Regions from separate parts of the Homo sapiens genome. Here region 2 is linked to region 1. A link means that fine-mapping ties the variant in region 1 to the expression of a gene that starts in the linked region. Tissue or cell type: lung. Region 1 holds a variant in brackets; the other region holds the start of a gene. All regions are shown on one strand. Distances are between the middles of the regions.

The links. PIP is the estimated chance that this variant, and not a neighbour inherited with it, causes the effect.
Region 2: it holds the start of CATSPER2, and the variant in region 1 is fine-mapped to the expression of CATSPER2 in lung (GTEx, PIP above 0.99). The same link has a PIP of 0.9 or more in breast, sigmoid colon, tibial nerve, unexposed skin and whole blood.

What each region holds. Positions count from the first base shown.
Region 1 is chr15:43,408,309-43,413,308 of GRCh38, forward strand. It overlaps TUBGCP4 (tubulin gamma complex component 4), which reads left to right. Exons shown (of 18, transcript NM_014444.5): 18 at 1-1,463. It overlaps TP53BP1 (tumor protein p53 binding protein 1), which reads right to left. Exons shown (of 28, transcript NM_001141980.3): 24 at 4,811-5,000; 25 at 1,339-1,433; 26 at 589-788. Among named protein-coding and RNA genes, the nearest start is that of TUBGCP4, 40 kb to the left of the region's middle. The variant AT/A (reference allele first, on the strand shown) is at 2,771.
Region 2 is chr15:43,646,618-43,651,890 of GRCh38, forward strand. CATSPER2 (cation channel sperm associated 2) reads right to left here and starts at 2,227. Exons shown (of 13, transcript NM_172095.4): 1 at 2,012-2,227; 2 at 1,300-1,446; 3 at 677-850; 4 at 433-501. The coding sequence starts at 1,444. It also overlaps the pseudogene PPIP5K1P1-CATSPER2 and the pseudogene PDIA3P2.

The sequences.
Region 1 (5,000 bases):
CTCTACAAAAGACAACAAAAAAATTAGCTGGGTGTGGTGGCGAGTGCCTGTAGTCCCAGCAGCTTGGGAGGCTGAGGTAGGGGGATCACTTCAGCCTGGGAGGTTGAGGCTGCAGTAAGTCGTCACTGCGCCACTGTACTCCAGCCTAGGTGACAGAGCAAGACTTCATCTTAAAAAACTAAGCCCTATATTAGGGTCCCCCTTCTCTTCCTTCTTTCTATGAATGATCTGTATTCCTTGCATTCCTGGCTTTCTAATTTCCATGTTTGTTCTGGGGCTGAGAATAATCCAAATCATGCTCCTGAGCCTATATATTTTTAATGCTTGCTTAAAACTTAGTTCTCTGACTTTACAGGTTGAGAATATTGAACCTATATACAAATCTTCACACATTTGCAAAAGGTTCCTAGCCAATGTAACCTAGGGAAATAAACTAGATAAACTCCTGAAGTCATTTCAAACCCACTCAAATTTATCCCACAGACATTCCAATTTCTAGAAAGCTTTACTCTCTCACCTAGATTCTCTTCCCTCCAAAGCTTGCTGTCCTCCTGCCTATACAATTCTGGATGGGCTTCAAATACTTACCAGTCCAGAATTCTTTGCTCCTCAAGGCTGTACCCAGCTGGCAACAGATAATTACGGTAGTTCTGGAGCTGGTTGGCATGGCAACTATCATGGACCCAGACATGAGACACACAAGGAATCCCACTGGCAAGGCACAGGAAGTACTTCCGGGTTCGACAATGCTGATCCGCAATTAGAAGACACTGGTAAGCTGTGTTACACTGCAAGAAAAGAAGCAGAGCCAATGGGTTTGGTGACTTCTGTGGAAAGCTCCTAAGCAGCAGCCATAATGAGCCATGAAGAGCAGATCTGAAGACTCCCAACTACTACCCAAAATGTGATTTAGTCTATCCTGCCCAAGGCCACTCTTCTCACTGGAAGGCCCAAGTAATTTCCATAGATGTTCTCTCTGCCTCACCTGCAGCATACTGAGGACCTAAATCCTCAACGGACAACCAAAACCTATGAACTCAGCCTTTCAGGCTAAAAATCAGCAACCCTAATAGGGGTTTCTACTACTAAACATAAACATCAATCTTCTTTTGTCCCAGCAACAGAACCATAGCCATTAACTAACCCAAGGTCCTACCTTCTCTTCCCTATACACAACAAAAATTCTATTTCATGCAAAAACATTTTGGCAGTTTCTCAGTTCCTGAAATCTCTGGCTACTTTATCCAGGTTCCCCAACCCCTCCCAGGCCTCTTCTCAACACAGCAAGTTGGCTCTTATCATTGCCACTATATTAGGTTACACAAAGAAACTCCTCACCTGGGCTTCATTGAAATCTTCAAGGATATAGCCAGCTCCTGCTCGAAGCTGGGATTCTGTATACTGCTTGTTGAAAGGAGGAATTTCCAAAAATTCTATATTAAAAAAAAAAACCAAGATAATAATTACTGAGTGGTTTTCTTATTTGCTACCTTATGCCTCCTTCTTACTGCCCCCTTTTCCACTCCCCAGCTATCCACAACAGTGTGTCCCCAAAGACAGGCCAAGGGCTTCCCCATGGGTCAGAAAGAGATCTTGAGGCCTTTAAAATGCTGCCAAAAGAAGGGACAAGAGTAGGAGGGAATGGGAAGATGAGGACTGGAGGTAGGTCCTAGACCTAAAAACATCAAAGGTTCCTGCACCGGACCGTTGATAGGGATGGGAACACAATCATTTCCCACAGTGACATATTCCAACTTGAATAACCCTTACCATCAGGAAGTTCCCTTTGTGTCTATCCTAAATCTTTCCTGTTGAAAACTAAACCCCATTTCCTCTAGTTCTGCCTTCTGTGGAGATGAATAGCTGATGAACACTTTATAAGTTATATATGAAGGGTTTATTATAAACCACTGCATCAGCCTTTTTACCCCCTTGTACAACTAAAACTTTAATAAACCAGAATGCTCAATGAAATATGGTTTTAAAATTTTAACTGATTAAGTGAAGGTTAGAAAATCCTGTTTCAACCTTTTTATTGAAAACTATCTACCTTTGATGATCTTGAAGTACCTCAGGACACTGAACACCAATGACTGCTCTATAGTCTTGAGAGTGAAGTAGAAGATATGAGAGATGAGGCTGAAGCTGTAATGACCCTAGGCAATTAGAAATTGCTTCTTTTGACCAAATATCTAATTTGAGCTTGTTTTCTTGTCATCTGCTCCTCTCATATATAAATAACACATTAAAAAAAAAAAGAAAAGAAAAGCAAGACATTAGAGATTTTAGTTAATTAGGAGTTTTGGGAAATTAAGTTCTAATTAACTGAAATTTTTATCACAAATTTTAAAACCCAACCCAATCCAGTGCATAAGGTTCAATGCCGGTACCACTCCCCTTCCCCTTCACACCCAGTAGTAAAACTTAGAGCAGATCCCTTATGACGGCTCCCCCTTCAGTGCCCTCGTTGTCTGCTGGAGGAGCTCAGGCACCGCCGAGGCCCCAGGTCAGGGGTCTCCATCTCCACTTAGTTCTGACTAGCCAACCTATTCACTTTTACTGCTCTTTTCTTGATTCAGCATTCTCCACATTCTTCTCAAATTGAAATCCCAAAACAGAAACTCTAAATGGTTATAAGAAACTCAGAATACAGCAGGGCTATTTCTCAGCTTTGTCATAGCACCCTTTTGCTATCTCAATATAGCATGTCACAATCTTCAGCACCAAGATTCTACTGCTGAGTCACTGCCAACACCCCTTACAGTCCTGT[AT/A]TTTTCTCAAGACTTCTACTTTATGTCTGCTTAATCCAGGACTGGTCTACTTAGATTTTAATCCCTAATTATATTTCCTTAATTTGTCTAATGAAGTATTACCCTGTCTAGGCAGTGTGTTTCTCTAATTTTTCTCAAATAGTCTGGGTTCCAATTTCTTCATTTTTGAGGTATAAGTGCCCTGCCCAGCCAGATGCTAAAATGAATAGGTTGTTAATCGTGCCATCTAAATCAAGTATGAAGGTACTAAATAAACCCAACTCCAGGGTCAATCCCTGTGTCTGAAGGATCTCTGATGGTGTGCCACCCAACAAGATTAGGTACCAAACTTATTAATAAATATATCTCATAAGATGAATTTAAATATTTTACTGAGCTCCTGTTGTAAGCTGGTGTCTAAGAATTCCTATTTATCTGTAACATCTACCAAACAGTTTCTTAAAAACTATAATTCTGTAGAGGATTGTTTTAGTATTAGATGTCTTCCGCCTTCTTGAGATTGAGAAACCCCCAAGCATTCTCATACACTGAAAATATCAAGGATTCTGGTACTGTTGGGCTGCGCCCAAGGATGAAGGCACCAACATAAAGACACATTCACCATAACCACACTGTCTATCAGAAACCTGAAGATCCCTTCAAAAACACTGTCCAAATGCCTCATTTTATTTTTATGAGTACAGTTTTATTACATCTCACGCAGGCACACGGATTTTAATGAAACTGGACAGCCTGCATCTCATACCAGTCAGCTTTCTTGACTATGCTGAACCAAGCAACAAACAAAACATCTATACAGCTGCCTTGTGAAGTCCTGGTTTCAAGTCCAGCAATATTGTAAAAGGGGGAAAAAAAAACCCATGACCATGACCACTGTTTTAATGCCATGACACACCTCTATGCAGAATCCTCAAAAGACTCCCAATTTTCCTGTCCAGGAAACTCTTCAAATACCTTATTCCCACTGTGCCTATCTGATTGTTTGACAAGCTAGGTGTTGCAAACACTGGACCTTGAAATCCCACCACACCACATCTACTCACTCCCACAGCCCAACTCTCCCAAACCAAAGCCTGCCCCTGATCATCCCTTCCATGTCCTTGTACATATCTACACATGGCTGCAGTCGGTGAGATATAGTTTTGGTTAATTAGGAAAGAGTCATCCACACACCTGAAATGCCAACCCTCACAGATGTCCAGTGGTGCAAATTATGACAACCATGTTGCCTAATTCAATTCCCTCTTGCAAGACAACATTAGTCAGAACTCTAACTTGTACAACATCATTCCATCTGGACCTTTAGCCTTTACAGACACATTCAGATACTGCTGTCAGTCACATTTACAGTGTATACATTTATATCTGCTCATTCCCTCTCCTAGATCACTCATTTTTCAGACCTCTACCCACTGCAGCCTTCCTTCAAAAACTAACAGACAACACAGAAATAAATGCAATGTACAGATTTAATTTAAGGTTAAAGAGAGGTATAAGAGTTGAAAAGGCCTAGAAGCTGTTTCTTTGCAATCACCCTGAGGAACCAGGCACCCCACAGTCCCAGTCTTAGACCTCAGGAGAATGAACCTTACCCTCCACATGGGTTTGCTCTAGCAGATGCCCATAGAACGCAAATGGGGAAGATGGCAGGGCATTCAGACCTGATTGACTTGGATGGTTGCAGTAGGCTAAAATGACAGAGCTCTAGTCACAGGTTTGTCATTATTGTGGACAAAAAAAACACAATTATTTAACCTTTAACCTCTCCAAACTTGTTTCCTCATCCATAAAATAGATAAGATCTATCTCCCATCTGCCTCACAGGATTGTTTTCAGGAACCACTCACTGAGAGGAATTTTGTGAAAACAGTCTAGAAACTGTTAAAAAGCAGGATACAGAGTAATTTCTGTGACCAAGATCCCAGTTGCTACTTGCCTTGCCTCCTCTACATACAACAGGGGGACCACCAGCTCATAAGTGACTGGAAAAGAAAGAAGTGCCTATGTGTCAGAGCTCCCAGGGCTTCCTAAGGCCTTACCCTCCTCTTCTTCACTGCTTCCTGTAGGACCATCTGGCAGTTTGGAGCGGCTGGCCAACTTGTCACTGGTTGTGGCCATGGTAAGGAGAAATGCGTAGCCCAGAAACAAGGTCTTGTTGAGAGGCAAAGGCCCTCTCTGCTCTTCCAGGGCAGAGGGTTCACCGGTGTTGTCTCCACTCTCACAGGGGCT
Region 2 (5,273 bases), 240 kb after region 1:
GTCCTTAATATAAATGTCACATTTCAAATGACATTCAAAAATGTAAAATGATCAATTTAGAAAAAAAAATTACTCCTACCCACTTCCTCTTTTTCTTTTTCTTTTTTTTTTTTTTGAGACAGAGTTGTACTCTGTCGCCCAGGCTGAAATGCAGTGGCACAATCTCGGCTCACTGAAACCTACGCCTCCTGGGTTTAAGCGATTCTCCTGCCTCAGCCTCCCAAGTAGCTGGGACTACAAGCGCGTGCTACCAAGCCCGGCTAATTTTTTGTATTTTTTAGTAGAGACAGGGTTTCACCATGTTGCCCAGGCTGGTCTCCAACTCCTGAGCTCCGGCAATCCACACGCCCCGGCCTCCCAAAGTGCTAGGATTACACGTGTGAGCCGGCGTGCCCGGCCTCACTTCCTCTTTCATACAAGGTCAGTTCTCACCTATTTCAACCATCAATATGATCGTATTCAAAAAGACCAGGAAGATGATGAAGTTTTTGAAGAGAGGACCTGTTGTCTCTTAAGGAAATGTACAGAGTGGAGTTCTTTCTGATTTATGCAGCTGAAATAATAAGAGCAATAACATAAGCAGTGAAAATGAGACAGTGGAGTATGGGGAGCAAAAAATAAGTCATTAGGCAGATGATCAACAGCCAGGATAAAAATGAGTGACATGAAAGGATACACTCAAGGACCCATCCGGCCCACAAAGAAAGAGGTGGCCTCTGACTGCAGCGCACATGAAGCCTGCTCAACAGCCTCTGGGCATGTGAAATCTGTTCTATACGCTGAGGCTTTATAGAGAAACGCACTAGCTGGTGTTGATCTCCCAATACAAGTTTCTTCTGGCGGGAAGGATCTACAACAAAAATTAAAAAGGGATAGTGGATAAATACAAACAAAATAGACCAGGTAGGGTTGGGGGCAGGGATACTGGTCAGGTAATGGGTTCCCCTAATGCCTTACTGCTAGTCCTTCTCTTCTCACAGCAACTAAGAATTCTGTTTGGAGTGAGAGCAAATGTATTGCTTATGACCAACACTGTCCATGCCCACAAAAGCAGCAGGCTCACTCTCAAAGTTTTAAGAGTCTTTGACAGAAACTCTTCCCAATCATCCATGGCTAGTGGCTATCCTAGGCCTAAAAGTGAAAGACGTGGATTCTATCTCTTCAGTTTTATTTACAAGCCCTTGATTTATCAAGTTTGGTAAACCAGCAACTAAACCTCCCCAGAATTTTCCACTCTTAAATGTAGAGGATGTGGATAGGAGTCTTAAATTTAAATTAGTGAAGAAATAGGCTGCTGACCAAGTAACTCCCTGATAGTGTGCCGCGGCACAGCTTGGCTCAAGCCTTGCAAATGCTCAATGAGAGAGAAAGTATCGATGAGACGTGAACGAATGGCATCAGCTCGGGGAAGCTGCATCTGCTCTTCTTGTTGGTAAGCGGCCATGTCTGCTAAGAAAATGTAAGCATCAAGTGTCATTTCATTCTTGGAGCTGCACCAAGGATTACAGGTTTTCTGTCCCCTCCTCCCCACCCTCTTTACCCTTAAGATTCCTTAATGTACCCACATCTACGAACTAGGAGCAGTTGGGAAGAACAAACATTCTACTAGGACTCAGGGTGTTTTGAAACAAAAGGGGCTAAGTGGTAAAGACATTGCACAGTCGACCAAGCGGCCAGGCATCTTCACTTTGTGATGGCATTTCTAATTAAAACTCATTAAAAACAAAACAAAACAAACAAAAACACCGCAAGAAAAAGGAGCAGCCACAAGGGCAGGGGCCCGGGGCTGGACAAAGAATCTGGGTCCCACCTGTGCCTGAGACAATCGGGCAATGAGGTGGAGTTGGGGGAGGTCTTGGCCTGCTCACGCAAGAGAAACCAAGTGCAGAGAAATTGGACAAAATGCCAAAGCCTGACATTTTGAAAATGGGTCCCGTCCCAAGTGTGTCCACTCCAACACTCCTTCGGGGGCTAGCTCCTTCTCTCCTCCATTCTCGCTTCTGGGCCTCACCTCAGCCCAGGTTCTCTTTGCCCACTCAGTCCTTATTTCACGCTTCCGCCTCCAGCTCAGGTGCCCCGAGCCTGGCTACCCCTATGCAAGACGAGCTCAGGGCCGGCTCCCAGCCTCACTGCGCCCCATTCCCCGCCCCGCTCGACCCCCAGGTTTCGGCTCACCCCGGGACCCGGCCCTAGCCCCTACCCACAGCCCAGGACCATGCGGAGCAACGCTCGCCCAGCCACTCGCCGCCTAGGCCCCGCCCCGCCCCGCTCTCCGGCCACTCAGCGGTAACCAGCTGGTCCCGCCCGCCGGACGAAGGCGACGCGCAGCCAATCAGCGGCTGCCACACAGCGGCCCGAGCCGGGTTTGGGGGTTGGGACCTCCGGCTGCAGGTCCCCTGGGCCAGACGCGCCAGCGCAGGCAGCCGGTTTGTGGTCGCGCGCCCGACCTCCGCAGTCCCAGCCGAGCCGCGACCCTTCCGGCCGTCCCCACCCCACCTCGCCGCCATGCGCCTCCGCCGCCTAGCGCTGTTCCCGGGTGTGGCGCTGCTTCTTGCCGCGGCCCGCCTCGCCGCTGCCTCCGAACTCACGGACGACAACTTCGAGAGTCGCATCTCCTACACGGGATCTGCGGGCCTCATGCTCGTCGGGTTTTTCGCCCCCTGATGACGCCACTCTGCCAAGGCGGGGGAAGAAGGGCCGGGCTGGGCCGGGGCCGGGGGCGAGGGCGCGGGGAACTGTTGGGCCTACGCAGCGCCGGCGCCCTTCATTCCTGTGGGCCCCTGCTGTGGCGGGCACATTTCTCATTCCCGGGAGCTGGAGGTGCCTCGCCGAGAGCGGTGGAGTCGGTGCTGATCGGCCCAAGGAAAACCCGAAGGCTGCGCTCACGCAGGGCCTCATCCTTATCTCGGTGCTCTTGTGGCACTTCCTATTTGCAGAGGGTTTTGCCACCCCTTCCCCCAGTTCAATATGTAGCTATATTGTTTCTGCATGAGTCAGTATTAATGTTACTCCAGTCTACAGACTAGACATCCCAAAGCCTTGTAGTGGAAGCGGACGTTTCACCAAATGCAGAAGTCCTGGATCCCTAGGGTATTTCCTTTCATCTTACCTCACGCCGCACAGCCATTGGTTTCTAGCCAAGGTCACTGAGTGGCTGCAGAATGGTCCTAAGTGCTTTCTTGAGGCAGGCAATTTGTCCGTCACATGGTGTACAGTTTCTCCCTTCAGCTGATCACTTACATCTCAGTACCGGCAGATACCTCTGTCCAAACGAAAAGAGTACCTGAACAAGAATAATTCCATCATAATCTGTCCATATTGTCCATTTTAATTAGGATTTCTTTAAAATGTCAATACTCCGAATAGGAACAGCTCCAGTCGACAGCTCCCAGCATGAGTGACGCAGAAGACGGGTGATTTCTGCATTTCCATCTGAGGTACCCGGTTCATCTCAATAGGGAGTGCCAGACAGTGGGCGCAGGTCAGTGGGTGCGCGCACTGTGCACGAGCCGAAGCAGGGCGAGGCATTGCCTCACTCGGGAAGCGCAAGGGGTCAGGGAGTTCCCTTTCCTAGTCAAAGAAAGTGGTGACAGACAGCACCTGGAAAATCGGGTCACTCCCACCCGAAAACTTCGCTTTTCCGACGGGCTTAAAAAACAGCGCACCAGGAGATTATATCCCGCACCTGGCTCGGAGGGTCCTACACCCACGGAGTCTCGCTGATTGCTAGCACAGCAGTCTGAGATCAAACTGCAAGGCGGCAGCGAGGCTGGGGGAGGGGTGCCTGCCATTGCCCAGGCTTGCTTAGGTAAACAAAGCAGCCGGGAAGCTCGAACTGGGTGGAGCCCACCACAGCTCAAGGAGGCCTGCCTGCCTCTGTAGGCTCCACCTCTGGGGGCAGGGCACAGACAAACAAAAAGACAGCAGTAACCTCTGCAGACTTAAATGTCCCTGTCTGACAGCTTTGAAGAGAGCAGTGGTTCTCCTAGCACGCAGCTGGAGATCTGAGAACGGCCAGACTGCCTCCTCAAGTGGGTCCCTGACCCCTGACCCCCAAGCAGCCTAACTGGGAGGCAACCCCCAGCAGGGGCAGACTGACACCTCACACGGCCAGGTACTCCAACAGACCTGCAGCTGAGGGTCCTGTCTGTTAGAAGGAAAACTAACAAACAGAAAGGACGTCCACACCAAAAACCCATCTGTACATCACCATCATCGAAAACCAAAAGTAGATAGAACCACAAAGATGGGGAAAAAACAGAGCAGAAAAACTGCAAACTCTAAAAAGCAGAGCACCTCTCCTCCTCCAAAGGAACACAGTTCCTCACCAGCAACGGAACAAAGCTGGACGGAGAATGACTTTGACGAGCTGAGAGAAGAAGGCTTCAGACGATCAAATTACTCTGAGCTACGGGAGGACATTCAAACCAAAGGCAAAGAAGTTGAAAACTTTGAAAAAAATTTAGAAGAATGTATAACTACAATAACCAATACAGAGAAGTGCTTAAAGGAGCTGATGGAGCTGAAAGCCAAGGCTCAAGAACTACGTGAAGAATGCAGAAGCCTCAGGAGCCGATGCAATCAACTGGAAGAAAGGGTATCAGCGATGGAAGATGAAATGAATGAAATGAAGCGAGAAGGGAAGTTTAGAGAAAAAAGAATAAAAAGAAATGAGCAAAGCCTCCAAGAAATATGGGACTATGTGAAAAGACCAAATCTACGTCTGACTGGTGTACCTGAAAGTGATGGGGAGAATGGAACCAAGTTGGAAAACACTCTACAGGATATTATCCAGGAGAACTTCCCCAATCTAGCAAGGCAGGCCAACATTCAGATTCAGGAAATACAGAGAATGCCACAAAGATACTCCTCGAGAAGAGCAACACCAAGACACATAATTGTCAGATTCACCAAAGTTGAAATGAAGGAAAAAATGTTAAGGGCAGCCAGAGAGAAAGGTGGGTTACCCTGAAAGGGAAGCCCATCAGGCTAACAGCAGATCTCTCGGCATAAACTCTACAAGCCAGAAGAGAGTGGGGGCCAATATTCAACATTCTTAAAGAAAAGAATTTTCAACCCAGAATTTCATATCCAGCCAAATTAAGCTTCATAAGTGAAGGAGAAATAAAATACTTTACAGACAAGCAAATGCTGAGAGATTTTGTCACCACCAGGCCTGCCCTAAAAGAGCTCCTGAAGGAAGCACTAAACATGGACAGGAACAAACGGTACCAGCCGCTGCAAAATCATGCCAAAATGTAAAGACCATCGAG